Linked DNA regions of Homo sapiens. The protein of the gene in region 1 purifies or fractionates together with the protein of each later gene. This does not show direct contact. Each region holds a gene or a part of one and is shown in the gene's direction. Other genes may lie near its edges.

The links.
Region 2: the proteins of SLC22A12 (region 1) and MYO5A purify together in Homo sapiens (affinity purification with mass spectrometry; one large-scale study listed by BioGRID and IntAct). This does not show direct contact.
Region 3: the proteins of SLC22A12 (region 1) and PPP1R12A purify together in Homo sapiens (affinity purification with mass spectrometry; one large-scale study listed by BioGRID and IntAct). This does not show direct contact.
Region 4: the proteins of SLC22A12 (region 1) and SPECC1L purify together in Homo sapiens (affinity purification with mass spectrometry; one large-scale study listed by BioGRID and IntAct). This does not show direct contact.

Annotation. Positions count from the first base shown.
Region 1 is NC_000011.10:64,594,021-64,603,012, forward strand, and holds the end of SLC22A12 (solute carrier family 22 member 12), read left to right. Parts: intron 1-4,495; coding exon 4,496-4,619; intron 4,620-4,787; coding exon 4,788-4,903; intron 4,904-5,655; coding exon 5,656-5,870; intron 5,871-6,346; coding exon 6,347-6,455; intron 6,456-6,714; coding exon 6,715-6,918; intron 6,919-7,467; coding exon 7,468-7,531; 3' UTR 7,532-8,324; downstream 8,325-8,992. UniProt on the Homo sapiens protein: Electroneutral antiporter that translocates urate across the apical membrane of proximal tubular cells in exchange for monovalent organic or inorganic anions. Involved in renal reabsorption of urate and helps maintaining blood levels of uric acid.
Region 2 is NC_000015.10:52,311,503-52,320,494, reverse strand, and holds part of MYO5A (unconventional myosin-Va), read left to right. Parts: intron 1-1,152; coding exon 1,153-1,435; intron 1,436-3,272; coding exon 3,273-3,447; intron 3,448-6,291; coding exon 6,292-6,372; intron 6,373-6,646; coding exon 6,647-6,799; 3' UTR 6,800-8,992. UniProt on the Homo sapiens protein: Processive actin-based motor that can move in large steps approximating the 36-nm pseudo-repeat of the actin filament. Can hydrolyze ATP in the presence of actin, which is essential for its function as a motor protein. Involved in melanosome transport.
Region 3 is NC_000012.12:79,925,183-79,934,174, reverse strand, and holds part of PPP1R12A (protein phosphatase 1 regulatory subunit 12A), read left to right. Parts: intron 1-8,992. UniProt on the Homo sapiens protein: Key regulator of protein phosphatase 1C (PPP1C). Mediates binding to myosin. As part of the PPP1C complex, involved in dephosphorylation of PLK1. Capable of inhibiting HIF1AN-dependent suppression of HIF1A activity.
Region 4 is NC_000022.11:24,416,035-24,421,646, forward strand, and holds the end of SPECC1L (cytospin-A), read left to right. Parts: 3' UTR 1-1,704; downstream 1,705-5,612. UniProt on the Homo sapiens protein: Involved in cytokinesis and spindle organization. May play a role in actin cytoskeleton organization and microtubule stabilization and hence required for proper cell adhesion and migration.

The DNA of each region.
Region 1 (8,992 bases):
TCTCAAGTGCTCCTTCTCCTACTTATTCTTCTCTTTTCCTCCCTCCTCCTCATCTCTTGGCCTATTCTCCTCTCCTGTCCCTGCCTGCCTTGGCATCTATGCTGCCAGGCCCATCTTCTGAGCCCCTCCTCTGTGTGTGCCAGGCATGGCAGCACTGAGCTAGGCTAGGGGAGCGAGTGGAAAGATACAACACATGCCCGCACACACAGCGCACAGCCGCAGTCTGCTTCATGGGCTGACAGAATCAATGCTTGTGTCTGTCTGCTGGAAGACAGGGACCAGGATCCACTCATCAGAGGGGAGTCCACAGTCCCCACAGAGGGCCGGCATGTGTGGGAGGTTAGGAAATGTCAGCACTGCCCTGAAACAAATCAGGCGTGGCCCTTGCCGAGCACCTGGCACATAGTAGGTGCTAAATAAATATTTGTTGAATGGATGAATTGTTAGGTAAGTAGAAATAGATAGATAGGTAGGTAGGTAGGTAGGTAGGTAGGTAGGTAGGTAGATAGATAGAGACAGATAAATAAATGGGTTGACAGATGTGTGGATTGGATGAGTGGATGGGTGAGTTGGTGGATAGATGGATTGGATTGTATAGATGAATTGAATGGATGGTTGAATGGATGGATAGATGGATGGATGGTTGGAATAGATGGATGGACGGATGGATGGATGGATGGATGGATGGATGGATGGATGGATGGACGGACAGACGGACGGACGGTTGGATGGATGGATGGATGGATGGATGAATGGATAGTTGGAATAAATGGATGGATGGATGAATGGATGGATGGATGGGTGGATGGACGGACGGATGGATGGACAGATGGAATGGATGGATGGATGGTTGGAATGGATGGATGGATGGAATGGATGGATGGATGGAATGGATGGATGGATTGTTGAATGGATGGTTGGATGGATGGATGGATGGATGGTTGGAATAGATGGATGGATGGATGGGTGGATGGATGGATGGATGGATGGATGGATGGATGGTTGGAATAGATGGATGGATGGATGGGTGGATGGATGGATGGATGGATGGATGGATAGATGGATAGATGGAAAGGATGGATGGATGGATGGATGGATGGATGGATGGATGGATGGTTGAATGGATGGTTGAATGGATGGTTGGATGGATGGATGGATGGATGGATGGACGGATGGATGGATGTTTGGAATAGATGGATGGATGGATGGATGGATGGATGGATGGATGGATGGAATGGATGGATGGATGGATGGATGGTTGAATGGATGGTTGGATGGATGGATGGATGGATGGATGGATGGATGGATGGATGGTTGAATGGATGGTTGAATGGATGGATGGATGGATGGATGGATGGATGGATGGATGGATGGACGGACGGATGGATGGATGGATGTTTGGAATAGATGGATGGATGGATGATGGATGGATGGAATGGATGGATGTTTGGAATAGATGGATGGATGGATGGAATGGATGGATGGATGGTTGGAATGAATGGATGGATGGATGGTTGGAATGGATGGATGGATGGATGGTTGGAATGGATGGATGGATGGAATGGAAGGAGGGATGGATGGATGGATGGTTGAATGGATGGATAGATGGATGGATGGTTGAATGGGTGGAATGAAAGGATGGATGGTTGTAATAGATGGATGGATGGATGGTTGGAATAGATGGATGGATGGATGGATGGTTGGAATAGACGGATGGATGGATGGTTGGAATAGATGGATGGATGGATGGTTGGAATGGATGAATGGATGGATGGATAGATGATTGGAATAGATGGATGGATGGACGGTTGAATGGATGGATGGATGGATGGATGGATAGTTGAATGGATGGAATGGATGGATGGATGGTTGGAATAGATGAATGGATAGATGGTTGGAAAAGATGGATGGATGGATGGATGGATGGATGGATGGATGGATGGATGGAATGGATGGATGGTTGGAATAGATGGAATGGATGGATGGATGGATGGATGGATGGAATGGATGGATGGTTGGAATAGATGGAATGGATAGATGGATGGATGGATGGATGGTTTGATGGTTGAATGGATGGATGGATGGAATGGATGGATGAATGGAATTGATGGATGGATGGGATGGATGGATGGATTGATGGATAGTTGGAATAGATGGAATGGATGGATGGATGGATGGTCGAATGGATAGTTGAATGGATGGATGCATGGATGGATGGATGGATGGAATGGATGGATGGATGGATGGATGGATGGATGGATGGATGGATGGCTGAATGGATGGTTGAATGGATGGTTGAATGGATGGATGGATGGATGGGTGGATGGATGGATGAATGGATGGATGGATGGATGGAATGGATGGATGGATGGTTGGATGGATGGTTGAATGGATGGATAGGTGGATTAATTGGATGAACTGGATGGATGAATGGATAGATGGATGGACGGAGGCCATTTGAGGGCAGGGCTGAGCCTGGATCATTCATACACAGGCCCTGCACTTAGTAGTTGTTTGGTCATTGGGACCACTGTAGAAAGGAGCACAGCAGAGGCCCAGTGGTGAGCAGGTGCCCGCACCCACACTAAGAAGAAGGCTGAGTCCACAAATCTCTCCCACCCAACAGCTTGGAGTGGAGTAACAATTTGCAGCCACTCCTCAGAGCAGGAGAAAATTACATCTCATACAGTGGCTCCACAAGGAGGCAATCGTGTCCGACAAGAGCCTTCTGGGATGGCAGCTTGACTCCCAACACCAAGAGGGTAGAGAGTGGAAGGTAAAGGTCAGTGATAAAAATTCCAAGGCACCCCTCCTGGTTCTCATGCTGATGCAGGGCCACAGAGCTGCACCCCCCTTTCCTTGGTAGACGTGCTCCCACAGGGCTGAAGAAGTGCCCATTCATTCATTCATTACTTCATTCATTCAACAAATAACTACTGAGCACCTACCATGTGCCAGGCGCTGGCTGACACCAGCTATGAGCAGATATGTGGTCTCTGCCCACGTGGAGCTCATAGGGAATCCCACACATCGTGGCCTCACAAACTGTGCTTAGGGCTTGACGAACAACCTGGGGTATTGACATCTGAGAATGGGACCCCGCTTTCTCCCTCCCAGTCACTTACAACACATTCCAGTCAGCTTTCTCCCTCTTCTCCGCCCAAACTGCCCTTCCCAGGGTCACCCACAATGATCTGGCCACCATCACTTGTGGTACCTGCTATGTGGCGGGCACAGTCCACACTCTCTCCCTCAGGCAGCCTCACCCCTGCCTGCAGCCCCAGCTCCCTCCAAATACTGCAGACCCCAAATCTCCACTTGGTCCTGCCTCCCCCACTGACCTCCAGCCTTACACCTCCAACTGCCCACGTGACGGTTCCATTATAGGTGTCTCATCCCCACACACATCTCCTTAGACCTCTCCTCCCCAAGTCTTCCCCAGCGTGGGGAGCAGCCCCTGAACTCACCAGAGTCACAGTGGCCATGACGCCTCTCTCTCCCTCACCATCCCCCCACCAAGTCCACTGGGTCACCAGGCTTCATCAGCTCTATCTCTAATATGCACCTGGAATCTCCACTTCTCCCCTCTGTTCTGCAAATCCCTAAGGAGCTCAGGGCCCCGGTGGGTGTAGGGCAGGTGGCCCCACCCTGGCTGCTCATAGGGGACAACACGTCTGGCTGAAGGACCTGCAGGAGCCAAGGCCTAGAGGCAGGCCCCGTGTAGAGTGGTGGGCATGGCAGGCGCTCAGCAGGCGGGGCGGGACGGTGTGGCATAAGCTCGGTTTGACACTGAGGGTAGTGGGAGACAGGTCAGTGTGAGGGGCTGGGTCCTGCCACAAGGAGGGGAGGTGCTGGGCTCATGAGGCCGAGATAGCAGAGACTCAGGTGCGAGGGGTCCTGGAGGTGTGGGAATCAGCTGACAGGGTGCGGCCAGAGGGCGCTGGTGCTGTTGGGGACCCTGGTCCCAGCCTGAGCCCCGGGGTGGCTGTGAAGCTGTTTGCAGGAGGAAGATGCAGCCATGGGGTGGACAGGAAGGCCATGTGGTATGGGAGGTGCCAGGACAGGGGTGGACCCCAGTCGCCTTGGAGATGGCCAAGGTCCTGGCAGTGGCCAGGATCCAGTGGTCCTGTAGCCCTAGGGGCCCTGACTGCAACCAGGCCGGGTTCCTAGCGAGGCAGGGGAAGGGCTGTGGGGTCTGGAGGGAGGCAGGAAGGGTTCCACAGAGTCATCCCTCCCTCCATCCCAGCAGCCAGCCCCAGGATGAGAACAGCATCCCAACCACAATCCCTAGGAGGGAGAAAGGCAGCAGAAGGGGTCTCCTGCTGGGGAAGGAGGGTGCCCAAGAGGGCTTGGCTGCCACAACGCCCTTCGGGGTCCTCAGCCGCCCTAAGCCTTGGGCCTGGAGCAGTGGGTACAGGGTAGCAGTCTGAGGCTGGCGCAGGCCAGGCACTGGGGGCCACAGGCAATGACCCCTCCCACGCCCCCTCCACTTAAGGTGGCTGGCAGAGTCGGCACGATGGCTCCTCACCACAGGCAGGCTGGATTGGGGCCTGCAGGAGCTGTGGAGGGTGGCTGCCATCAACGGAAAGGGGGCAGTGCAGGACACCCTGACCCCTGAGGTAAGGCTGGGTCCTCCTCAAACCCGGACCCTCAGACCCTCTCCCTGCCCCTGCATAGGGCACCCTGGGAGACCCACCAAGGACCTCAGCTCCCTGGGAAGAAGGTCTCAGAGAGGAGGAGGTGCCTGGCGCCCCCAGTGCCAACAGCACCCACCCCCGCCTCCACAGGTCTTGCTTTCAGCCATGCGGGAGGAGCTGAGCATGGGCCAGCCTCCTGCCAGCCTGGGCACCCTGCTCCGCATGCCCGGACTGCGCTTCCGGACCTGTATCTCCACGTTGTGCTGGTAGATGCCCTTCCCCCAACCCCACCTCCACAGGGGAACCTGGAATCGGGGCTCTCGCTGGCACACGGCCCCGGCCTCTGCTGGCTCCGCTTGGTCCCACTGGCCTGCAACACCGACACCTTCCCCTCTGTCAGTCACTCCCGACAGGAGACAACCCAGGCCGGGTGGGCTCACTGAGGGGGCCTTAATAAGGGGCAAGGCAGATAAAAGAGATGCAGTAGGTAGGATCCCTAACAAAGCTCCTGGGAGGGCTGGGAGCCAGGCATGACGAAGGGGTGATCCAGGCAACAGCATGGGCCGCAAGCACCCCTGCCTGGTGTGGGGCCAGGGAGGGCGGAGAGGGCTTATCAGAGCCCAGGACCCATGGCCATCCAGCAAAGACCAAAACCGCCAAGGCCAAGGAGGGAAGGACTGTTCAGTGGCAGCTGGAGCCACGGAAGGGACATAGTCACTCCCAGACAAAGCCCCCAAGCAGAGAGGGAGGCAGAAATCCCCTGCTTCTCCCCTCCTCCAACCTCTTGCCAGCACCTCCCATCAGCCAAACCCAAAGGGAAGCCATGCTGGCAAGGGGACCTGATAAACATAGTCTAGAGACTGGCCCCGCCCCACAGAGCTGGCAGCTGAAGGGCCAGAACACTGAGCTAAGAGCAGCACACCCCCACCCTGAGCCCCCACCGCCCATTGTTCCCACCCTGCCCACCACCCCCCCCCACCCCCCACCCCCACCCTGACTTCCCTGACCCCTGCCCCAGGTTCGCCTTTGGCTTCACCTTCTTCGGCCTGGCCCTGGACCTGCAGGCCCTGGGCAGCAACATCTTCCTGCTCCAAATGTTCATTGGTGTCGTGGACATCCCAGCCAAGATGGGCGCCCTGCTGCTGCTGAGCCACCTGGGCCGCCGCCCCACGCTGGCCGCATCCCTGTTGCTGGCAGGGCTCTGCATTCTGGCCAACACGCTGGTGCCCCACGGTGAGGGGGCAAAGCTGTACACCAGAGACTTCCCTACCTTGGGGGGGTCTCGGGCTGGGAACAGCACCCCTCCTTGGAGGTGCTGGACTAGAGCAGGTACCCTGGTAGGAAGGAGGCTGCCGGAGCCGTCTAGGGACAGACGGCAGTGTCTGCACTGAGCCAGCAAGAGCGGTGAAGGAGTGGCATGGGTGGCACCAGGGAAAAGTGTGGAGTTAAAATGAGAACTAAGTGATGGATTGCAGGAGGAGGGAAACGGGGTCAAGAAGGACTCCTCGGGGCTGGCTCTGGGTGTCTGAGCGTGGAGCAGATTGTGGGTGTGGCCATGAGGCCACTCAGGACAGGATACCCAGATGGAGATGACTCCCAAACATTTACAAAGAGGCCTGAAAGTCAGGGACAAGCCCCCTGGGCTGAAGGGAGCCCTCATCTGATCTTGGGCCCCCCACCAAGCTCACTAATCCCATCTCTACCCACAGAAATGGGGGCTCTGCGCTCAGCCTTGGCCGTGCTGGGGCTGGGCGGGGTGGGGGCTGCCTTCACCTGCATCACCATCTACAGCAGCGAGCTCTTCCCCACTGTGCTCAGGTGAGGCTGGGCCTGGGCTCCAGGAGAGGGGAGCCCTGGGCTGAGCTGCGGGGCACCCCCAGGCAGGACTGGCTTCTCCCAGACCTAGATGTTCATGTCATGCATCTCCCTCTTGTGTGGTCCCCGGGGCTGCTCAGGTGCATCCCAAGCCCAGCCTGACCCCCTGGGTCTCCCTGGGCCAAGCGGGCCTGGCCCGGCGTGCAGGATCAAGGCTGTGGGCACACAGACCAGGCGCTTATAGGTGCATCTGCATTGGCAGGATGACGGCAGTGGGCTTGGGCCAGATGGCAGCCCGTGGAGGAGCCATCCTGGGGCCTCTGGTCCGGCTGCTGGGTGTCCATGGCCCCTGGCTGCCCTTGCTGGTGTATGGGACGGTGCCAGTGCTGAGTGGCCTGGCCGCACTGCTTCTGCCCGAGACCCAGAGCTTGCCGCTGCCCGACACCATCCAAGATGTGCAGAACCAGTGAGTGGACCCAGCCTCGGGACCACCCCTCCCTCCCACCAGAGAACCCTAGCACAGGGCAGCCTGCTCACCCATCCCCATCACTTGACAGAGGCGGAAGCAGAGGCCCAGACAGATAGGATTGGCCCAGAGTCACACAGTACATCTCTGGGAGAGTGGCAACCCAGGGCTCAGTCTCCGGCTGGCAGTGCTTTGACCTAGGGCTTTGTCCTCTGCCTTTCACTCCACCATTCAAGGCACAAATGGACAAGCTCCCCCAGGTCCACCCTGAGAGAGGCCAAAGGGAGAAGAGTGGATAGTCCTTTGTGAGAGGGAGATCCAGCCATTGTTGGGGGCCCTCGCAGGCCCCAGATTCTACCTCTAAAGCCCTGATGGCTGGCAGGGCAGTCACTTCACACACACCCCCAACCCATCACATGCTCGGGAGCTCAGTTCTGGGCCCCCGAGAGCAGGGTGGTGGCATTCCCTGGAGTCCTTGGGATGGACACAGGTCAAGGGTCAGGGGCCACTCCGCACCCCAAGACACACCCCCGTGTGCTTCCTGAACAGGGCAGTAAAGAAGGCAACACATGGCACGCTGGGGAACTCTGTCCTAAAATCCACACAGTTTTAGCCTCCTGGGGAACCTGCGATGGGACGGTCAGAGGAAGAGACTTCTTCTGTTCTCTGGAGAAGGCAGGAGGAAAGCAAAGACCTCCATTTCCAGAGGCCCAGAGGCTGCCCTCTGAGGTCCCCACTCTCCCCCAGGGCTGCCCCTCCAGGTGAGCCCTGCCCCTCTCACAGTCCAAGGGGCCCCCTTCAATACTGAAGGGGAAAAGGACAGTTTGATTGGCAGGAGGTGACCCAGTGCACCATCACCCTGCCCTGCCCTCGTGGCTTCGGAGAGCAGAGGGGTCAGGCCCAGGGGAACGAGCTGGCCTTGCCAACCCTCTGCTTGACTCCGCACTGCCACTTGTCCCCCCACACCCGTCCACCTGCCCAGAGCTCAGAGCTAACCACCATCCATGGTCAAGACCTCTCCTAGCTCCACACAAGCAGTAGAGTCTCAGCTCCACAGCTTTACCCAGAAGCCCTGTAAGCCTGGCCCCTGGCCCCTCCCCATGTCCCTCCAGGCCTCAGCCACCTGCCCGCCACATCCTCTGCCTGCTGTCCCCTTCCCACCCTCATCCCTGACCGACTCCACTTAACCCCCAAACCCAGCCCCCCTTCCAGGGGTCCAGGGCCAGCCTGAGATGCCCGTGAAACTCCTACCCACAGTTACAGCCACAAGCCTGCCTCCTCCCACCCTGCCAGCCTATGAGTTCCCAGAGGGTTGGGGCAGTCCCATGACCCCATGTCCCAGCTCCCCACACAGCGCTGGGCCAGAGAGGCATTGGTGCGAGGGATTGAATAAAGAAACAAATGAATGGCTGCCCCTCACTGACTCAAGTGATGAGCCCCCAGGGTCCTCCCGGGTCGGGGGAAGGAGGAAAGTGCTGGGGGCTGCTTTCTGGGGTGGGTCTTTCCCAGGCCAGCTTGCCTGCCCCAGGTGCCAGGCCAGAGTGGCTGCTGTTTCCAGCGCCTGTTGTGGGCCCGGTGCTGTGCTGGACACCTCAAAGCATCATCTCACTTCACTTTTTCCTGAATCCTGTAGGGCAAACATTGCCCCATTTTACAGATGAAAAAACTGAGGCTTGAAGAACCTGATTGCCCATGACACTCAGCTAGGTGGGGGCAGTATCAGGATTCAAACCCATCAGTAGGCCTCCAGAGCCCCACTCTGGCCACAACAGCCCCAGCCTCTCCCAACCCAGCCTCACCATCTGGGTGTCCAGTAACTCTCCTGGCAGCGGCAAGGCCAGGGGCCCACAGTGTCCACAGGCATGGCTCGCGGGGAAACGCAGTGCAGCGCACACAGAGGTCTGGGTGCAGGTAGAAGCCATTTGCTGCCCAGCCGGGTCCCAGCCAGCCAGCCCAGTCACCTGAGCCACCCTGGGGCCATGCTCAGATGGTCTCTGGGTCCACCTGTGCCTGCCTTGCTGCTTCCAGGCACCTTGGCCGAGGGCAGTGCCCTACCACCCCTACACACACATTA
Region 2 (8,992 bases), on another chromosome or scaffold:
TTTAGGAGGTAACACAGATACCAAGGTCAACTTCAGCCAGTTTTTCTATTGCTTTGCCTGTTTCTATTGGCTGAATAAGAAGTTCGCCTCAAAGAAGCCCCAATCTAAATCCTTACCCCCATCTCCCAGTCATTTAACAGCAACAACAAACATGCCGGTTCTAGGGAATCTGTGTTTAGCACAATTAAATAGCAAGATGAACCAGACGTGGCCTTTGCTCTCAAGGGGCTTGCTGTCAGGGAGTGGACATCTCAGAAACATTCTAAGGGAGGCATAAGCCAAATGCTAAGAGAGCACAACAGGGAAGCAGCCGGGCCACAGGTGAGAAGACGAATTCTGGGAGATGGAGGTCAGCCCAAGGGCCCACTGCTGTTGTGGGAAACCCAGAATAAGGAAGGGCCCAGCTCTCCAGACCCATACCACTCCCCTCTCCCACGTTTTCTCCAAGATGGTTGTCAGTGCCCTGCTTTTCTTACTGTTTTTGCCTCTGGGGCTCAGATAACATGGAGAATGCTTATCTTAACCCGAACTGCTACCTACCACTCTCAAAAGCCCACCCAAGACACACACACTTGTTCTATCACAAGGCTACTGCTTCTTAACGCTTCTTATTTTAGAAAAGACACCATTAAGTTTACTTAGATTCATAGTAAATTTTTGCAATTAAGAATTATTCCTTCAGTAAAGTTTAAAATCCGGAAGCCCTTTTGTAGTGAAGTTCCTTTTCCCTCTATTTTGGCACCCAGATCATTTTTTTCTTTTTTGAAATGGAGTCTCTCTCTGTCACCCAGCCTGGAGCCCAGATATGTGGTCTCAGCTCACTGCAGCCTTTGCCTCCCAAGTTCAAGTGATTGTCCTGCCTCAGCCTTCTGAGTAGCTGGGATTACAGGCACACGCTACCACGCCTGGCTAATTTTTGTATTTTCAATAGAGACGGGGTTTCCTTATGTTGGCCAGGCTGGTCTTGAACTCCTGGCCTCCAGTGATCCACCCACCTCGGCGGCCTCCCAAAGTGCTGGGATTACAGATGTGAGCCACCGTGCCCAGCTAATTTTCCTAAGTTGAATGTGCATGTGTTTGTGCACATGGATATGTGCACATGAAAGGTTCCCTTCCACATCATCTCCTCTAACAATTGAAATACTCCTGCAGTCTCAGGCATGCTGGAACATGAAACGATTCAGGGCGTGTCTGGGGTGAAGCCCACAGGGTTGAGAAAGCGAACCTCCAGTATCGCCGATGAGGGCACCTACACACTGGACTCCATCCTCCGGCAGCTCAACTCCTTCCACTCGGTCATGTGTCAGCATGGCATGGACCCTGAACTGATCAAGCAGGTGGTCAAGCAGATGTTCTACATCATAGGGGCCATCACCCTGAACAACCTTCTCCTGCGGAAGGACATGTGCTCCTGGAGTAAAGGCATGCAGATCAGGTGAGCAAATGCCAACACCTGCGACAGTGTCTTTTTGCTGCCCAGCTGGCCTGCCAGGGTTGTGGAGAGCTGATGACTTGTTTTCAGTTCTTGCATCTCATGTCTGGTGCCATGTGGCCAAGCAGCAAGGGAGAAACTGGCACGGAGCCACTTTCCCTTGCCTGGCTGGATTTCACCACATCTCATTATTGCTCCCTGTCTGTACCCTGCCAACAGGTTCTTCACATTCTTGATAGGAAACCCTTTTCCACTGTGAAGCTTGCTTATTTGGGGGAGTGAAGAGATGATGCAAAAATACACAAAGATGAGATAGCTGCTTCCTCTCCTTATGTGTGTGTTTTAATTATACAATAAGAAATTATTAAATTATAATAATGAAGATTTCTAATGTTTGATTGCTCTTAGAAATATATTTTTGGAAAAATACCTTTTTGTACCTATGGCAACAAGAACAGGTCTGATAGATCTTTTACTAATTCTTAAAATATCCCCCCTCTATATTTTAAGAAAAGCTGCACTTAATTTTATGCCCAATACTCCTCAGCATAACCTCATTATTGTAACATAATTTTTTTGCAAATTTTTTTTTTTTTTTTTTTTTTTGAGATGGAGTTTTGCTCTTGTTGCCCAGGCTGGAGTGCAATGGCGCCATCTCGGCTCACTGCAACCTCTGCCTCCTGGGTTGAAGCAATTCTCCTGCCTCAGCCTCCCAAGTAGCTGGGATTACAGGCATGCACCACCACACCCAGCTAATTTTTGTATTTTTTGTAGAGACAGGGTTTCACCATGTTGGCCAGGATGGTCTCAAACTCCTGACCTCAGGTGATCCACCTGTCTCGGCCTCCCAAAATGCTGGGATTACAGGTGTGAGCCACCGTGCTGGGCCACAAATTTTTTATTTTAAAACAGCTAGAATATTCACCAAGAGGAGGGAAAAATGATTTCTCCTATCAAAGTCTTAGTAGTTACTCAATCTCAGGAACTGTTAGTGTTCTTTTCAAATTTTCCATCCTGACTTACATTGAAGTGTAGTGAATTTTAAGACAATAATGCCTTCCTCTCAGATAGTGGAGCATATTTCTCTATAAGCTCTGCATGGAAATGTGGAGCCACCTGTCGCAATATTATGCTGGCCCCTATTTGCCTGGTTGCTAAGTGCTGATTGTGTGTCTATTGACCTCAGTCTTAGGACTGCTGCCACTTGGTTGGCTATTTTGTGAAACCTACAATGTCTTTGTAGTTTGTCTCTGTCACCATTTGGAGTCTTTGTCTCTTCCAGTGGCCCTCCCTTGCCTCTCTCTCCTTTCATCCCGGAGCTTTCTCAGGCCACCATCTTCATCTCCTAGGCTCTTCCCTTAAGGCTTCAGCACAGGTATATGTGGGGCTTTTGGTTATTCAGTTACCTGATTTGGAGTTTGCCTTAAGAGAGAGTGCTTCAAGGATTATCAAGTCTCACCCTGCAACAGCAACCCAGCTCTGAAATTGTAAGAGAAGCTACAAAGTGTTTTCTGGCCAGCTCCCCAATAAAGACAGAGCTACATTATGTTATTCTATTTTGTTTATTAGCAAGTCTAATAACTTTTGCCATAATGACTTCATTTCCATCTTCCATTAAAGAGAATTACATTATCTTGTCATTTAGTCTTATATAATGGTGATTATAATCCTCATGACTATAATAAATTTTTAAGCACAGCTGATGAGATTTAAGAAAATTGAACAAAAATACTGCCTGTCATTTTAACATAAATCCTGACAAGGCCGCACACAAAAAAATTAAGACATTTTTGACAAAATTCAGCAAATTTGCATTCTCTGTATCTCTTTTTTTTCATAGGTACAATGTCAGTCAACTGGAAGAATGGCTGCGTGACAAGAATCTGATGAATAGTGGGGCTAAAGAAACCCTGGAACCTCTCATTCAGGCTGCTCAACTTTTGCAAGTGAAAAAGAAAACAGATGATGATGCAGAAGCCATTTGTTCTATGTGCAATGCTTTAACTACTGCCCAGGTAGAGCAACTTTCCCTGTTACAAAATAATTTAACATTCATCAAAGATGATCTTTAGGGAAGTAAAGAAGTCCTCTACTTATTGCTTGTATCTCTGAGCTGACTTCATCTGTGTTCAAGAAGATATATGCCTCTACCAATCTTAAAGCAAGGAGATTTTGCCAGAAATTAATACATTTCAGTGCTAATTACAGTATAAATATATTTAATATTCAGCAAATATTTATTGAGTACTTACAGTGTTCTATATAACATTGAAGGCACTGGGATACACCCATAGGCAAAACAAAGTCTCTGCTCTCATGGAGTATACAGTCTATGCAGCTTATATTCCATAAAATAGCTTTCTATCTTATTTGATAATTGAGTGGATTATCAAATAGTGACTTTGTTTTTAGAGACAGATAATTCTTGTTACTTCAACAGATGATTAATTAAGCCTCCATCTCAAGGCACCATATTTATTGCTGGGGAAGATGCTTCAATAAATAAGGAAAAATTCCTGCCTTCAAGGAGCTTACAGTTCAGTAGGGAAGACAGAGTCGTATCCAACTGACTCTACCGTAGAGGTTCTAGCAAATTCTGTAGTAAGATGCCTAAAGGAAGTACTGAGGGAAGATAGCAGTATTCAGGGAAGGTCCCATTAATCTGGGCATTGAATTTAAGGAAGTGGAAGAATGAGAAGGGCATTTGAGGATTATAGTGACAGCATGAAGCAAGGCACAGGCATGAACATGCCCAATTTTCTTTTGCCCGGTTATTTTCTGTGCTGACTCTTAGACTTTCTTTCTTTTTTTTTTTTTTTTTTTTTTTTTGTGACGGAGTCTCGCTGTGTCGCCCAGGTTGGAGTGCAGTGGTATGATCTCCACTCACTGCAAGCTCCCCCTCCCAGGTTCACGCCATTCTCCTGCCTCAGCCTCTGGAGTAGCTGGGACTACAGGCACCTGCCACCACGCCTGGCTAATTTTTTGTATTTTTAGTAAAGATGGGGTTTCACCATGTTAACCAGGATGGTCTCGATCTCCTGACCTCATGATCCACCCGCCTCAGCCTCCCAAAGTGTTGGGATTACAGGCGTGAGCCACAGTGCCCAGCCAACTTTCTTAATGTTCATCATATATCCTACAACATATGAAATTTTCAGTTTTGCCCAATACAATTAAAACTCAATCAGTTTGAGACCAGCCTGACCAACATGGTGAAACCCCATCTCTACTAAAAATACAAAAATTAGCCGGGCATGGTGGCAGGCACCTGTAATCCCAGCTACTCTGGAGGCTGAGGCAGGAGAATTGCTGGAACCTGGGAGACGGAGGTTGCAGTGAGCCAAGATTGCACCACTGCACTCCAGCCTGGGCAACAGAAAAAATCAGTAGGCCAGGCGTGCTGGCTCACACCTGTAATCCCAGCACTTTGGGAGGCTGAGGCAGACAGATCACCTGAGGTCAGGAGTTCAAGACCAGCCAGGCCAACATGGTGAAACCCCATCTCTACAAAAATACAAAAATTAGCCAGGCATTGTGGCGGGTGCCTGTAATCCCAGCTACTTGGGAGGCTGAGGCAGGAGAATGACTTGAACCTGGGAGGCAGAAGTGGCAGTGAGCCAAGATTGTGCCACTGCACAGAGACTTCATCTCAAAAAAAAAAAAAGTCAATCAGTAGACAATCAGAATCAAGACTTGCAGCTTCTTAATGTTGAATTCATGTTTGCATAACTTCTTACTAAGAATAAAGCAGAACTATCTGACAGAACAATGGTCCTGAGATTTCCTCCCAGTTTCTGCAAGTGTGGAAAGTAAGAATACCCTGGAGGAAGCCCAACTTTATAGAAGTTGGCTGCCATTCAACTTCTAAAGAATATACTTTAATACTTAAATATACTTTAAGCATATTTCACAGAGTGAGGCAGACCTGCAGTTTATTTATTTAGCAAATATTAGTTAACAAAGTGGTCCCACTTTTTAAAATTCAAATACTTGCCTCCGAGAGACTGATCCCTAATTCAGTTTGTCACCCACAGACCTGATAACAACATGCCCACTTTCTAGTTCTCTGGTGCTTAATTTATTTTCCTATAGATCAGCACTGTCCTGCATTCAACTTTTATTTTCATTTTGTGTTAATAGCCACATGTGGCTAGTGACTACTACTGTTGTATTGGACAGCACAGGTTTAGACAATACCTTGAAAATGGAAATATCTACCTTATATAGACGATGATTTATTTTCATTAGAAAAGAGACATGACCATTTTACAAAAAAAAATTATTGAACTTTTTAAAAAAGAACTTCATACTCTCTAATTGATTAATTTCTTTAGGGGCTTTTGTTATTCATGTTATTTATGATCTTTTATAAAAATATGATTTAAAAAACATTCAAAAGAGATAATTGTATTAATACGGCTAACATTTTTATATGGAGAAAAGTTGCAGAATAGTATTAATAGAATGAATCCCATTTGTATAAAAATAAAATGAACTAGAATATTTATAGCAGCTAGAGGGGGTGTTCAGGACATGGTTAACAATTGCCACTTTGGGAGACTGGAAGGATGGAAGTGCGGACATTTATTTTTCATGTTTTATTCTCTTGTGCTATTTGAATATCTTCGAAATTTACACAGCTTCTTACAATATTACACAAACATTACATTGATACATTCTCTTGTAAAAATTCAGATAAAGGTAAATGTGCAGACCAGCTCCTCCTTCCTTCTGGTCCCAGCCCACCCCTGAGTAGAACTGAAATCTGTACGCACAGATCCTTTTAATTTTCCAGATTATAGGTACCCAGTGTGTATTTGATAATATGCCAAAAACTTTGATCATTTCATTTCTCACAGATTGTGAAAGTGTTGAATTTGTATACTCCAGTTAATGAGTTTGAAGAAAGAGTCTCTGTGTCGTTCATTCGTACTATACAGGTAAGAGCTCCCATCTTCTTCTTTGATTCACCAACACAGTCTTTTGAATGGACATTTTGTAATTTATTGAAGGATAATGTGTTATCTTTTATTATCTTATTTTACAATGCACTAACTTTTTTGATAATAGTTAATTGGGAAAATGAAGTGAGTTTAAAACAAAAGTAAACATTCTTCATTAGTTGAGAATTTGAGGGTAGAAATTTTAGTAGAAAAAAGTCTTTTAGATTCAAAGAACTGATGCTCTGTTTATTTTTTTTCCTAATCTTCTCAGATGCGTTTACGAGACAGGAAAGACTCTCCCCAGCTGCTCATGGATGCTAAACACATCTTTCCTGTCACCTTTCCTTTCAACCCATCTTCCCTCGCACTAGAAACCATCCAGATTCCAGCCAGCCTCGGCCTGGGCTTCATTTCACGGGTCTGAAAGTGATGTCCAGGCAAAAATTGACAATACATTTCTTGCCCGAAATAAGAACCCATTATTTCCAGTGAGTTACTGAAAATACATTTTTAAAGAGAAAGTACTGATTATCTCCCAAATGAGAAGTCATTAACTGGAAATCTCCCTAGAATACTTTCATCACTTTGGAAACAAAGATAGGCTCTTTCGTGCTGTGTTATCTTTATAGCAACACTCATCCTTAACCAACTAGGTACCGTGAGTTTACATACAGGAGAATGATGGAAGGAAGGGAGGAAGGAAAGGAGGAGAAAAATGTGTCTTCAGCTGGCAGCATTTATTTTAAATCCTTAGCACTGAGTTTGAATGGTATAAAAAGTATAACTTCCATAGATGAGCTGTTGTTAGGAAGGCACCAAAGAACCTCCTCTGCACTAAACAGGAGAATGGAAAGAAAAGTCTCCATTGAGTACATATCATGTCAGTTTAGTAATCAATTATGTTGATATTGTTAAACTGGTTCAAAGAAATAAACTGGCAATATGTAAAGTAATTCCTCATTTGTGTCACTATGATATAGAGATATTAAAGGAATGTTGGTTTGCTAAATAGTATAGATGTCCATTTGTACTATAGTTTACTGAGCATTTTAAATTGCTGCTACATACTGTCTTCTTAAAATGTAAGTGATATTAGGCACTACAATAAGTTTCTCTTGTCAATTCTGTTTACAATTCAATCAGATCACAGTTTTAACTGGATTATATGCAAATACCTACAGATTCACCTGCACAAGTAGCAGACACTGGAAAGTCATGTAGTAATATGACAAAATGCTTGACATTTAGGGGTAGGATTAGACAAAGTGGCTATTGTTGATGTCATTATTTATTCAGGATGTATTACATTGATGTGCTCATTAATTTTCCCTGGGTGGATATTGCGTCAGGGTACAGTGTTCTGTGAAGTGACTTATTTTTAACTACCAGATCTGATTCCTTCAGTGCATATTTTCAACCTTGACAGGTTTTCTCTCTTCTTAATTTATTAAGAATTAATCTCGGCTGGGCGCGGTGGCTCACGCCTGTAATCCCAGCACTTTGGGAAGCCAAGGTGGGCGGATCACTTCAGGTTAGGAGTTGGAGACCAGCCTGGCCAACATGGCGAAACCCTGTCTCTACTAAAAATACAAAAATTAGCCGGGCGTGGTGGCACTTGCCTGTAATCCCAGCTACTCGGGAGGCTGAGGCACGAGAATCGATTAAACCTGGGAGGCGGAGATTGCAATGAGATCGAACCACTGCACTCCAGCCTGGGTGACAGAGAGAGACACTGCCTTGGAAAAAAAAAGAATCTCACTCACTATCTAGAGAGGATTGTCAGAATATTCACGATTCAGGTCTTGAAACTTTGATTATGCAAAAGAAGGTATATAATAAATATTTCATTATGATTCAGTTTTTAAGGCTTTGCAGCTTCTATAAGTGTTCTCAGATGCCACTAGATAATTTTAAAAGCATCATATTAGAAATACTTTAAGAAGACTTATATAAGAAATAGAAGATTGTTGAATTTTACAGAGGATTTGGTTCATTAAGACCCAGATTCTGTAAGTTTTCATTCTGAAATTCTAGTTAAACATATTCACCATTTTTCTTAGGAATCTTATACAATAAATCCTTCAGGTTGCACAAAAGCAAATTATTAGTTTTCATTAGAAACTCTGGTTCTGAATTACAATCATAGGTTATATAAATTTAACTGTTAGATGGTCTATAAATCTTATTAAAATATGTGCAATATTTATGGAAGTCAAACAGCTTCATATCAGTGATAAAGATTGTTATTAAAAGATAAATACTGTCTGTTAATTTACATGGGCCTCAAGTTCCTCGTTTATAAAATAAGAGAGTTGGACACTGATTCTTAACATCTCCTCCACATTTAAAATTCTCTCTTCTCAGCCCTTAGATTCTAGAGAGAAAAAGCTGCAGTTACTCAGTAAGTCCATTCTCTGATGGAAAGACCAGTGTGTAGTGCCTGTCAATTCCTTAGGATTAATCAAATGTAAAATCACAAGTTTGTGTAGCTGTAACCTTTCTTAAATGTACATGATTTATGTACATGCTTTTAGAAGGTCCTACTATATTTGTATTATAATTAGTTTAAGTAATTTTTATTACATCATGTATTGCTTTATTCAGTTTGAATACATTT
Region 3 (8,992 bases), on another chromosome or scaffold:
AGCCGAGTGCCCTGAACGAACGATTTCCTGTTTTCTCATTTATTACTCTTGGTCACTGGGGAGGGGAAAACAGGGTGTAATTAGCTGATCTGCACCGGCTGAAAGGAAGGGGATGGAAGTGGGTAGAGTAAGGAAGCCCTCTAAAGGGCTTGCCCACCTCCGGACCGGAACGTGTTGAGTCTGATACTCGAAGTTTGCCGCAGTGTCAGAGATCCTTGAGCCCCAGGTCCTCGGGTGTGCACTGGTGTTAGAAAGAGAAGAATAAATAGGGGACACTCTTTTCAAAGCCGGTTACCAAGCTCTGGTTTTTCTTTTGGGGTTGGGAAAAAAGAAAGCTGGTCACAAACTTTTCTCAAAATGGATGCTTTGTGCATATTAAAGTTTTATAGTAGTCTGATTGGGATCTCTCAATGTTAGCCAAATAAGGAGAAACTATTGGCAATCCAGAGATAATGTTGCCTTGCCTTTAACAGGCCAAAAGCAACACAACCACGTAGAGTTATGCATAAAAAGCAATTTTTAAGTGACGGTAATAGGTGACAAAACATAGGCTTTTTCTATTTTCTTAGCGGGCAACTTGGAATAACTGTAATAGAAAATGACTTTGCAGCGATAGCTTCCCCTTAACAATGAAAAGACTTGTAAGCTATCTCAAAGTTGCCTTGGTTGTGTGTGGAAGATGCATAGCCTTATTTTGAATAATGTTGTAGTAAAAACTTGTTTGGGAGGTTGAAACTCAAGGCTTTATATTTCATGAATATTAACTTGATGCCTTTTAAAAAAAAGGTGTGTAGTGACATTTTTCCTTGTCCTGCTTACTGTTTAAGGGAGTGATGACCATTTTAAATTTTGTGTAATGGAATTCTCTTATCAGACTTGGAGTATAGCCTTTGTTTACAAAGTTGACTGGATATATTGAAATGATTGACACATTGCAGGACAAATATGGAATTAAAAATGTGGCACCCAGTAAAAATATAGCAGGGTGTCTAGCGCTTTCTCAATTTCATTAATTTAGATTCTCTAATGCATAGCAAACTTTTTATTTGGGTGAAGTTTATTTAAGGCATATCATAACTCGTAAAATTTTAAAACCATGGTGTTGAGAATGAAGGAAACTTTTGGCATTAAAAATGATAATGTAATTATATAAGATGAATCTTCAAATTTCTTTCAAGTGTACTTTACACGTTTTAGTGTGAAACAGATTTTGAAAGACGATTATTACTGTAGGAGGTCAGGATAATTGGATAATGGTTCGCATCAATATGTTTTATTCAAATTGTCAAATAGAAATTTAAAGTTACTATTGTTGTGGAGGAACCCAGTTGTATTGGCTTAGAGGAAGACGAAAAGTTTTGATATTTACATTATTGTGATACTGGTTTAGGGAGGAAGAGAAAATACATTTAACTGCCTTCTTAAGATCTTTTTTTCTCCTCTCAATATTCACACGTTACAAGAATTGTCAGACTTACCAATGTCTTCCTGATTAACTGAATTCAGTGGTCAGTTTGGTGTTGTGTAGATATATCTTTATTGGGTATTTTGTTTTAGTTGACAAACAGAAGTTTCTAAATTTACTCCATTTGCGTAATATCTTTCTGTCACTTTTTGTCACTGTGAGTGTGGGTTTGACCCGATAATCTCCAACCGCCTCCCCTTTTCCATAACATTTTTCCATATCTGCAAATGCCTTAAATCGGTGAAGCCAAAGTCTTTAAAATATCAAGCATTAAAAATTTGTGTTATGTTTTCTTCACTCTCATTTCTTATTTATCAACTCTTGTACTTTTTTCCCATTGTTACTATGAAAACAGGGAGTTCACTTTGGGCAAATTTAGGACAACAGTTAGTGAAAGACAATAAATAAAATTAAAAACCACACACACACAAGAAAATTTTAAGCCTTTAAGAAATCTCTTGAACTTAGCTTGTTTTCCATACTTAATTGTAAAAACTAAAATCACTGATTTAATAGTCCTTGAATAGTTCTTTAAAACTTTAACCTCTCAAAAGATCGTAGAATACCTAAAATGTATAACGGGGTTAATTGTTGATTGTTTTTTGAATATTCATTTACTTTCTGGTTTTGATCAAGTGTTCTAAATTTCATTGTCAAGAGAAAAGTTTTAGGAACATCACAACCCACAAATATGCTTTTGAAAATCGAATATTTTGCTTTTACTTTAAAGAGCTTATATTTAAAGGTTTATTAATTTGTTGAATGTGCTACCTCATTAGAAGTTATAAAAGATATCCAGTCTTCAGCTGTTCTTTTTGTATAGAAATGTGTCCTCTGTATAGAAGAAAAAGCAGCGTTTCTTGTCAAATTTCCTATCTTAGTCTCCAGAGTAGCCTTTCTCCCCCACCCACTCTACCCAGGACCTGACCCCCAAAGCTACAAAACAGCACAAAGTTAACCATAGATACAAATTTCTGGTTTTTCTAGAACCGAGGTCTAGAGTAGAATTTCATTATTACCAATGGGGCAATAATCAGCTTCTGATTTTATAGCTACCTGGTAGAGTTTTACAGTATGTGATTATATCTCTATTTTAGCATATTTTGTAAAGATTTAAGGAGATTAATAAAGTTATATATAGAATGCCTTATTGCTGATTCTTACTGATACTGGTGTGCATAAAATACAGGGCTGAGATTTTTCTCCAGCAGTTTTGAGTTTAGCCTGTTGATTTTAGCCTTAAAATCTTTTCTTTTTCCTCTGTGCCAGTGACTTCCAAGTCAGTTTACAGTTCCCTCATTTCTGCAAAGCTCCAAGCCTCATTTCCATTTTTTGGGGTTATGTATTGATTTGAAATGAAATATTAAATGTATTGTAATTTTATATTTAATAATGTCTTTTAAGTAGTAATATAGTAAATACAAGTTCACCCCCTTTGCCATAGAATGGCAACTACTGTATTCACGTTAACCTTTGTGATTTCTTCAAAGGATTTCTTATTGTTCAAATATAGATTTTCATAGTTGCAATTCAGTATTATAATTTTACGTTTATCCGTTAACATTAGAGATACTTATCTTTAGACTTTACCAGCATCCTTTTTAACTAATTATTTTAAAAGTATTATTAATTTGGTGGTAAGACAATTTTACATCGTCAGGAATTTCTTTAAATTCAACCTAAAACAGGTCTATCTTTCTTCATCAAGTCTACTCTTCTCATTGATGTTCCTGTTTCTGTTAATGATGTATTAATCTTTAGAATCAAGTTAAACATTTTAGTTATTGTTTACTCATTCCCCTTGTCTATGCATAATCCAGTCTGTCTTCTAGCTCAGTCTTTTCTTTACAATTACCTTGGCATCAGTTCTTTTCTTTGCCACTTTTTACTGGCAACCTAGTTCATACCTTTATTATTTTATTTTATTTTATTTTTTTGAGATGGAGTTTTGCTCTTGTTGCCCAGGCTGGAGTGCAATGGCGCTATCTTGGCTCACTGAAACCTCCACCTCCCGGATTCGAGCGATTCTCCTGGCTCAGCTTCCCAAGTAGCTGGGATTACAGACGTGTGCCACCATGCCCAGCTAATTTTGTATTTTTAGTAGAGATGCGGTTTCTCTATGTTGATCAGACTGGTCTCGAACTCCTGACCTCAGGTGATCCACCTGCCTCGGCCTCCCAAAGTGCTGGGATTACAGGCGTGAGCCACCGCACCTAGCCTTATTTTTATCCCTAGAGTATAGTAATAGCTTAATTGTTTTTCCTGCCTCTATTCTCTCCCTTATTTAATCTAGCATGCATATTGCTGTCATATTAATCTTTGAACAGTATCATTTTGATGGTGTTATTCCTCTCTCTAAATTTGGATATAGTACATTTTATCATTTAGCTTATGGTTGATACATCTCCATTGTGTTGTATCCTTTATAGAAATTGGTTAACTTGCTTACGTTTCAACTAGATCTTTACATTTTTTATTTCCATGCCTTTAGCCATGCCTTTTATCCTCTCTCCCTCGTTTGCCAATTAAAATTCTAGTCATTGTTCAAGATTCACATTCTCTTTTCTGGGGTGTTCACTGTACCTTATATTCTGCCTCTCCTGCAATAAAAACACTTTTTACTGAATAGTGTTTGTGTTTGTCTTCCCTTGTAGCCTCTGAGGACCTAATCTTCCACAATTTTTGTATTTCCAGAGCCTAGCACATAGTAGATGCTCACTAAAGGTTTATTGAATTTTTATCTTTTTACCTCATCAATAGGAAGTTTTAGAGTTATTTTTATGTTGTGAGATATATTTTTGAAACCTTCGCATCAGATACTTAGCGTATTGTTCTTGCACATAATGGAATTTGTGTGATTATGAAACAAATTAAAAACTTTGTTGTAGATTTCAATATATTTTAATATCTTGAGATTTTAAAAAAATCTTTTTTTTTTTTTGAGATGGAGTCTCATTCTGTCACCCAGGCTGGAGTGCAGTGGTGTAATCTTGGCTTACTGCAAACTCCGCCGCCCAGGTTCAAGTGATTCTCCTGCCACAGCCTCCCAAGTAGCTGGGATTACGGGTGCGTGGCACCATGCCTGGCTAATTTTTTTTGTATTTTTGGTAGAGATGGGGTTTCACCATGTTGGCCAGGCTCATTTCGAACTCCTGACCTCAAGTGATCCGCCCGTCTTGGCCTCCCAAAGTGCTAGGATTACAGGTGTGAGCCACTGTGGCCGGCCTAAAAAATTCTTAATATCGACCTCCTTTCTATTAAATTTTAAAGCAGTCTAGATATTGGTTAAGTGGTAGAAAAATATTATATCCAGTTGAGTCACTAATTAATTACTCACTTTGTAAGAGTCTGAGCTAGATCCTCTAGAGCGGGGGTTCACAAACGCTGGGCCGTGGACAGGTCGATCCACGACCTGTGAGGAACAAGGCCACACAGCAGGAGGTGAGCGACACACTGGCAAGCTAGCATTACTGCCTGAAATCCACCTCTTGTCAGATCAGCAGCGGCATTAGATTCCCATAGGAGTGCGGACCCTATTGTGAACTGCGCTTCTGAGGTATCTAGGTTGTGTGCTCTTTATGAGCATCTAATTCCTGATGATGATGTGAGGTAGAACAGTTTCATCCGGCCCCACTCCCCAACCCACATCTGTGGAAAAATTGTCATTCACAAAACTAGTTCCTGATGCCAAGGTTGGGTACCACTTCTAGAGGAATACAAAGTAGAATTAGTTCCATGTTCTATGCTATTAGAATTTTAAAATAGTTTTTCTTTTACTTTCCAAAACAGACAGACTTACAGATAGGTTTAATATGAAATCCTTTTGCTTTTAAAATACAAATTTGATCTACTTCTAAGGGAGCCATTTTAAGCATCTTTGTAAAATATGTGATCCTCTCGTCAGTAAAGGGAATACTTTTGTGTAGTCTTCTTAAGATGTGAAGTGTAAAAGAGACTGGAAGCAATTAATTTTGAGTTGCTTGTTAGCAAATAGTTTGATTACTATGTAAAATCTGAATTAAGAGTTTATAGTTTGTAACTGTTTACCCTTTTTTTGATGGAGAATGTTAAGATCTTGGAAGAACCTACTGGATAACTTTTAAAGAGCATTAAAATTTGTGTCTAAAAGAATGTGCAGTGTAAAATATTTCTCTGCATAGTTTTCTTTTTAGAAAAGCTGTAACACTTTATGCTCATGCCTTTCAAAAGTTTTTATTGAAATCATCCTAAATCCATTTTTAAAAACCTACCTAAACAAACAAATAAAACCCTCCCAACCCCAAACTGGCCCCTCACTTCCTACAAATAAGTGGGCAACCCTAGCCATATATGGGGTGTGCTGGTAGGGCACCAGTGCCCACACTGCTGCTGTTCTAATGCTTTTTCTGTAGTTGCTGCCTCTGTGCTTCCTGGCAACACTTTTGTGGTCTGACTTTGAGGTGTCATAACCAAGACCATCTTTCATGTGCCTCAGCTACAGTATGATTGCAAGCTGTGACTGAGCATTTTCTATAGCCAGGTAGAAACACTGGATGGAATAGAGGAAGTGTTTTTCATCATCCATTTGTTATTACCACATTTAAAAATTACAGTTCACATAAGAAAAGTGTTTTAAAAATCTTATTAGATGATTTTTAAAAGAAAACTATTTAAAAACCTTTTAATAGGGGGAGGCATAAAACGTTGTTTTGTTACTACCATAACATGTTACTTCTTGACACTATATGAAGTTGCTATTTTCATTGCCTCTGCCTGCAAAAAATTGCCATCTTTTACTCCACCCTTCTTTTGAAAGTTTGTGGGGCTCCACAATAAGGTTGAGAAGATGATGAGGTATTGGCATTTTGGTATACCTCTTTGAAAGGTTGAAGAACTCCAACAATTATAAGTTTATTCTCAGTTGGAGTCAGATATGTAGTAGCCATGACTTAATCAGTGTTTTATTGAGGAGCAGTGCTTTTCCAAACAATAGTTTAATTTTCACAACATGCTTTTTCACTTGCTCAAAGTTAACAAGAAAATAAATGGCAGAGCTGGAATTCTTATGCAGGTCTGTTTGATGCCGAAACTCAAACTTTACCCTATGCCAGGTATCTTCTTTGAAGTCTGAAGAAGAAAATATTCTTAAATCTTTTCATCATTATGGTGGTGTTTAGTAATTGGAGGTTTCTCTGTAAATTAGCTGAAAATCAAGTGAAACACACATATAATTTTTTTCTTCATCCACATTTGTTTTAGCTAGCCCATACTTTTAAGACCTTTCTATGGTAATTGAAGTGCAGTAGTACTGTATCTAAATTAATCTCAGAATTCGAAATTGTCCTAAATTTTAGGAAGTGCCAAGATTATTTTTGACTTACCATTATGTGCAGAATATATCAGCAGCAACAAGAAACACTCCTTTTTTCAGGACATAGAATTTAATTTTTAACTACCTTTATTTTTCTTTACCCTAATAGCAATTTATATCGTTTCAGTTGTTGGGTGTGTGTGTGGGTGTGGTGTGTGTATGTGTGTTTTGAGACAGGGTGACAGACTCTGTCACCATGGCTGGAGTGCAGTGGCATGAACATAGTTCACTGTAGCCTTCCTGGGCTCAAGTGATCCTCCCACCTCAGCCTCCCGATCAGCTGGGAATACAGGCATGTGCCACCACTTCCAGCTAATTTTTTTTTTTCTTTGACAGAGTCTCCCCGTGTTGCCCAAGCTAGTCTCAAACTTCTGGGCCCAAGTGATCCTCCCACCTCAGCCTCCCAAAGTGCTGGGATTACAGGCGTGAGCCACTGCACTTAGCCTGTTTTAGTTTTTTTTAATCATTTACAGTAAATTTTTTATACATACGTACATGTACATATTTGATTCTTTTTAGAGACAAATTGTAGGAAACTTCATACCATGGATACTGGGGGTGGGGGGGAAGAAGTCCCTTATATACCCTTAAGGTAGGGACTTTGATTCTTTTTTTCTTTAAATCTCCTTTTGTATCGGCATTTTGTTTTAGTAGGTACACAATAAATATTTAATGATTAAAAAAAATTGGACACAATGTAAACTAATATTTTGAAGAGCAGAATTCATAGAATATTAAATAATTGGGTAAGTGTAACACACTGACAAACTTTTAAAATGTCCTAATAAAAAAGCTTATATCAACCACTTACTTTTATAATACTTACAATGTAAAGGTAGCCATTATTACAATCAAAACATTTATTAGGTGGCTGGGTATGGTGGCTCACGCCTGTAGTCCTAGCACTTTGGGAGGCCTAGGCAGGCGGATCACCTGAGCTCAGGAATTTGAGATCAACCTGGCCAACATGGCAAAACCCCATCTCTACTAAAAATACAAAATAAAAATTAGCCAGGCATGGTGGCGCATGCCTGTAATCCCAGCTACTCAGGAGGCTGAGGCACGAGAATCGCCTGAACCCAAGAGGCAGAGGTTGGAGTGAACTGAGATCATGCCTCTTCACTCCAGCCTGGGCGACAGAGCGAGATTCTGTCTTAAAGAAAAAAATTATTGGGATGTTAGATTTATTTTTGAAATGAGATCTATTACTGATTATCAATAGACGCTTCAGTTTATGTAACTTAGTTTAAAAATTCTTTAAACAAATCCTTGAGTGTTCATTTAGAAAAGTAATCTCTAGGCTGGATGCAGTGGCTCACACCTGTAATCCCAGCACTTTGAGAAGCCAAGGCAAGAGACTTGATCCCAGAAGTTCAAGACCAGCCTGGGCAATATAGGGAGACGGTGTCTCTACCAATAAAGAGAAAAGAAAAGAAAGAAAAAGAAAAGAAATCTCTAGCATGGTAATATTAGAAATAATGCATATTTTCTGTTATTTTACTGATACTTTTTTTTTCCAAATAACATTTTTACTATGGCTCCCTCTATGTCAGTATTTTCTGACCTTATTAGTGTTTTGGTTGTTTATCTTTGCATTGTTATGCTGGCTAACCATAAAAAGACACGCTTGAGTTCTGTGTTACTGCCCTAAGTGTGCTTGCTGCTCAACTCAAATGCTCTTTCATGGGAGGAGACATTCCACATTGTCATGTGTTGTATAGGCATTTCTGAAATGACATTCAGTAGAAACCATGGAAAGAAGTGAAAGCATTCCTCAGCTGTCACTTTTTTAGTAGTCTATTTAAATGTTATGTATATTAAGTGAGATATTCTGCAGAGAGAGCTTCACTTAATAAAAAGCTTTACTTTAACTTGATGATTTAACTCACATTTGAGCTGAAATTACTATTTTCTTAGTTTAACATGACCTCTAACAATAAAATCATAAGATTGTACAAAGCTCATGTCATTTTCTTGAATACTGCATAGTGCAGAGGAGAATACATTTTGTGAGATGTCACTTGGCACCCTCTTAAAGATTAATAACCATGTGGGAAAGTATATTTTCATGGACTGTTACACACACACACACACACACGTACACGTATGCACTCAACCTTTACTTGTAATAAACATCCCAAATTATATATATTTTATTAGCCTTCAAAATTGTTTTA
Region 4 (5,612 bases), on another chromosome or scaffold:
CACTGCCCCACAGACTGGATGCAATGAGGGGCTCACAGGAGGCCCAGCCAGCCCGATTGTGGGCTGAGGGGTCTGCATTCAAGCACGATGTTCTAGAATAGGAGTTTAACGTGTCTACGTAACCTAGAATGTGGTTATTAGGAAAGGGGCTGTGCATGTGGGTGCAGCTGGCGGCACACCTGGTCACCAGATGGCCAGAAGCTGCCCATCAGCCCTGCCCAGATGTCAGCCTGGGAGCTCAGGCTGCTGCCGCTGGCTGGATGCCCTTTGGTGAAATGCCTGTTTTCAGCTAAGAAAGGAGAGGCCAGGCAAGCAAAGTCATGCCACAAAGCATATCAGAGACCCCCGCAGACTCCTGGCCCCGTCCCGCCCCCTGTCTGAGTTGTGTTTTTGTTGCTGTTCCTCTGTTGATGGCCAGCTCTGCTGTTGGCATGAGCCACTGATGTTCATGTGAGAATTACTGTTTTTAAGTGTCTCTCCACTTAGGTGTCCTCAGTTCCCACTTTTGCTCTCATTTGCCTTCACAGAGGCCACTCCACCTGTCCGGATCCAGCTGTCTGGTCATGGTTTGGTTTATTTATTTTGTCCTTCAGGGGCTGTTTTGCCCTAAGAATGAGGGGGCTTCCCCTGGTCTGCAGTTCCCAACTTTATCCCTTGCTGGCCATGCGAGCCCAGCCCTGGTGCCTCATGGGATGGGGGGGTAGGGGTCCCCAGGATCTTCTGGAGGAAGGTGGCCATGGATGGATGGGCTGTATCTGTGTTTTCCCTCTGGGAGTCTCATGGGTCCAGCATCAGGCCTGAGGTCAGCAACAGGGAAAGAGGGTGGGCACGGGGAGGGCTTGGCCCCGCCTATCTAGAGGCTTGCCTCGGGCCCCTCCTTGGGGAAGGTTTGCGTGCAGAGCTGCAAGGGAGAGGGTTCCAGAAGCATTGCCTTTTGCCTCGTCTAATAGGATCCTTAGGACACTGTGGGCTTTAGGAATGACTATAGATGCTCACACGTGTTTAAAGTGACATTTGGAGATGCTCTCAGTCCTGTGGCATCTGGCACGAAGTCTCCAAGAAGCCACTTTGCCTCTTCTCCCTTCAAGCACAAGCTTTACTGCAAAAGGGCCAGTCGCGTTTCTATTTCTCTCGATCCCAGGCTTCTGCGGACCGACGATACGTTTAAATGTTGTTCTAGTAAATATTCTTGAATGTATTAAAATGGCTGAAACAACAAGCTTGGGCTTTTCTAGCTTGCCCTCCACTCCCTGCCGTCCCTCTGACGTCGCATAAACCAGAACCCAGCTCCCTCCTGGGACTGGCTGTGGAGAGAAGGGCACCTCTGAGCCAGCCTGTGGCCCTACCCCAAGGCGCACTTCCTCATGTGGGCAGATCCTGACCAGGAGTCCAGGGTGGCCTCCCCTGGGCCACAGCACATCACCGTGTGGCCTGGGGCTGTGGGACAGTGAGCCCTGTAACCACTAGGGTTCTGTGACAGATGCCAAGACCCCAGAGACCGTGGCAGAGCTACCCCCAGGAGAGCGGAAGCCCCTACACAGCCCAGACACATGCCTTCCCTGGGGGCTGGGGAGTGTGTCTCGAGGGGTTTTGTTTGTTTTGAGGCATGTATCATCTTGGAAATAATTGTCAGGATGTATAAAATAGAGAAAAAGAAAAAAGGTATCCTACCCAGAGGCAACCAGATAAACTTTTTTGCCTGTGCATTGTTTTTTGTTGGTTTTTTCGAGACGGGGTCGATCACGGCTCACCACAGCCTTAACCTCCAGGGCTCCAGCAATCCTCCCACCTCAGCCTCCTGAGTAGCTGGGACCACAGGTGTGTGCCACCATCTCCAGCAGTTTGTTTATTTATTTTTTCTTTTTTTTTTTTTGGTAGAAATGGGCTTTTCGCCATGTTGCCCAAGCTGGTCTTGCACTTCTGGGCTGAAGCAATCCTCTCGCCTTGGCCTCCCAGAGCCTTGGGATTACAGGTGTGAGTCACTACAGTGATTGTGAATGCACTGAGCTGGCCTGGAGAACACTTACCACCTTGTCCACGTCACATGCAAAAGGCCCATGGTGGTGGTGCTTCCTGCACACGAGGGCATGTAGTGAATGCCCTTCCCAGGTGGAGACTCCTCAGGGTTGGGAGCCCAGCAACTGCCTTGGCCCTGAGTAAGCCAGGAGTTGCACTGTGACCTGCAAGTGCTTGGGAGCTGCACCCCTGGGTGCCAACAGCTGCAGGTACCCTGGGGTGGGCAGTGGGCAACAGCTGTAGAGCTGGGAGCTGGGCGTGAAAGGACTGGGGCAGGACTGGGCTTGGACTCAGCTCCTCCCTGCTCAGCAGCCCCTTCGTTGTGTCCTCTGCTGTGCGGAAGGGGTTCTGCCCTAGTGGTCAGCAAGCATCCATGGAGCCTGCCGGGCGGGCCCTGTGTGCAGCGGCCTCCACACGTCAGCAGGGGACTGCCGTCCCTGCCAGCGCACCTGGGCCTTGTCCTGGGCAGCACAGACCCCTTAGCCACCACTCCCAGGTGGGGCGGTCACTCCCAGATCCTCCATCCGTCCCGCCTGCAGTGCAGCTGCCTTGGATGCTGATTAGGGTGGCCCTGAGGGGATCCTTCTGTCCCAAGTTACGGGCCTGCGGGGCCCGTCCACAGTGCTGTGCCCCTCAATTTGGAGCTGGCTCTGCTGCTTCCCAGGGCAGCACCTATGGGGAGGGCATCGTTTATACCTTGACTCAAAGTTCCAGGATCTCAGGGACAGCTTAATAGGTGGAAGGGGGAAGCTGTGAGATTCCAGGGAGAGTGGAGAGATTCCAGGGAGAGTGGAGAGATTCCAGAAGGATCCCTTACACCCCTCCAGCACCCTCAAGGGCCTGCGGTCCTGTGCCCAGACGCCACGCCCTGCCCCAGCAGCCCTGCCTGGCCAGCTCTATGGCCCCAGCCCCACGGGGCCGGCACTTCGTGCAACCTCGGGGTAGCCTGGGTTCTATTTTAGGTTGTCCCTTAGGTGAGGGACCGGGGCAGACAGAACCAGTCTCAACATGCTCGCAGCCACTTCCCCGTACATCAGGTGAGTGAGGACAGACTCCTGGGTTGCTGAGATTCGGGGATCTGGATTCTGGCAGGAGCTTTGACCCCAACAGGTCTGGACCTTACTGGGCATCTACAGGAGCTGGGCCGGGCACAAGAGAGGACTCCATCTCTCCTGCCTGACAGGAGAGGACTCCACCTGACCAGCCCTCTCAGGCTGGGAGTGCCTCGGGGAGCCTGCTGTGAGGCAGGGGGAGGGGTGCGGAGAGACCGGGCACAGCTTGCCAGTTGACTGCACCAGGCCCAGAGCAGGTGCTGAAAGGTCTGGTCTTTTGTCTGCACCCTCCCGTGTTTGTGAGGAAGGGGTGGCAGGGGGTCTGCAGTCTTAAGGGCCAAGCAGAAAAGAAGGGCCAAGGCAGGCACCCACCAGGCAGGAAGCAGGTGTGCCCTGAGGGGAAGGACAGGCCATCGCAGGGCTGGGTTGCACCCAAGACTTCTGCCAGGAAGAGCACTGAGGAGTCGGGACACACAGGTCCTCCCCAGGTCAGCCACCGACACTTGGGATGTGCTGGGCTTGTTTCCACCTCTGCAAAGCAGGGCCCCCTTCTGGGCCCTCATATCAGGCACTCTGACATGGGGTACAGTCCTGGCAGGTCATGGGGCTGGGGCCACAGGGAGAGCGGGCAGGTGGCTTAGAGCCATCGGGGTGATGAGTGGCAAGCCCCGGCATGAGGGCTGCAGAGGACTGTCACTGCCCACGCTGGAGCCAGGGCTCCACTCCCCTCAGGGCCTGCTTTCACATCTACGCCGATCATCCCCAAGGCCGGGTTGCTAGCGGGTTGCTGTTTGTCCTGACACCCAGAAGCAGATATGGGGTGAACATCTTGAGTGGGGTGGGGTGAGTTGGAGGATGATGACCAGTGACTCGGAGATCACTTCCTCCGTATGTTTCTTCTGCCTTTGCAGGACCTCTGTTAGGATAAACTGGAGCCTTGTGAGGTCCCTGCCCCATTGGAGAAGTTGGGGAGCACCCAGGGTGACCCAGTTGGTTTCCAGGGACCCTTCCCCTGCTCACTGGCTGCTTGTCCTGGGCCTGGCATGTCTTGCTCCTGATGCAGCTCAGCTGGCCTCAGAGCAAACAATGAGGGCCAGAGGCCACCAGGTGCATCCTGGGCAGGAACAAAGGGCCGGAATCCTGGAGCTGGGGAGGCCCAGCTGGCCCCGCCGCCGCCGGGCCTGAGGATCTGGAGCCTGGATGGAAGGAAGGGTGGGCGCCCACAGCCTTTTCAAAGCCTGCCTGGGGCTGGGCAGGGAAACCAACGCCTGGAGCCAGAAGCTGGGGCCTGCCAGGGGCCTCCCCGTGCCCACCAAAGGGCAGTGGTTGCAATTGGAGAGCTTCTGCCCCTCAGCCTTGTTGCTCCCTTGGGCCTGGGGGTGGGGGAGGCGGGCAGCCCAGGCACCTGCACAGGGACCTCCCCCAGCCCCACAGCCTTGGTATCTGAGGACAGCACTCAGCTGAGGTGGGTACGGGGCTGGCAAGGGGGCAGCAAGGCCAAGACTGAGGAGGTGGCCTTAAGGCACGTGGTGCCGAGAACACAGGCCCCTCCCTGGAGAAGACAAGCTGGCTTGTGGGGCAGGCAGTTTGGGGACAGCCCTGCCAGGTGCCGTTCCCCATCCCTGAACTGGACAGCTTGGCCTGTGCCGTCTCTGGGCAATGGCAGCGCTGGAGACCTGGGCCAAAGCACCTGACAGATGACACAGGACCGCGGGGCTCTCTGCCTCTGAAGGGCCAGGGAGGAGCCCAGTAGGGGAAGGGTGGGGGCCTGGCCTGAGCCGGCCCATCACAGCCTCCTTGGCACTGGCTCCTCATGGGTGGCTGTGGGGACTGTGGAGCTGGCTCTGGGGCTGGAGCCACTCCAGGCCCTGCCTGACCACCCCCTGGCCTCAGGACACAGTTCCACCGGCGCCACTGCTGAGGAATGGAGGAACTGCCCCTTGAGCCCTAGAGGTGAATGTTAAGGGCTTTGGCACTGTGACCCTGAGGACCAGCTTTGGAACAAAGCCATCACTCCCTGCGTGAGGACGTTGCGGCTGCAACCCTCCTGCTGTGGGACTGGGGTGCACATGGCTAGACCATGCATGGGAAGGTCCACGCAGGAAGGTTGCGGGCCCCAGGATGGGAATGGCAGAGGAGTCATTGGGGTCCACACTGGGGGACGAGACAGACCCTCAGAATCGGCTGAGGGCTGGTTTCTGCCTCGTGAGCCCCCTGAGCCCCTCAGGAAGACTCAGGACGCTCCGTGCATGTTTGCTGAGTAAGGGCTTGAATGAATCTGGGTCCAGCAGGTGTGGGCGGGAGGGGTTTGTCCCCACTAGAGGAGAGGTTTTACCTCGTGGAGAGCCCCAGAAGCAAGGATGGGGGGGCCAAGGATGGGGCCAAGGGAGGGCCCCATGGCCGTCAGCATCCCTCACCCCTACCTTGTGGTTTGACTTAACCTCCAGGAGGGGGCAGGGCAGACACAAGATACTCATTTTACAGGTGAGGATATGGGTCCTGGAAGGTCTGCAGGGAAGCCCCTGCCGCTGGTCCCAGGGCGGT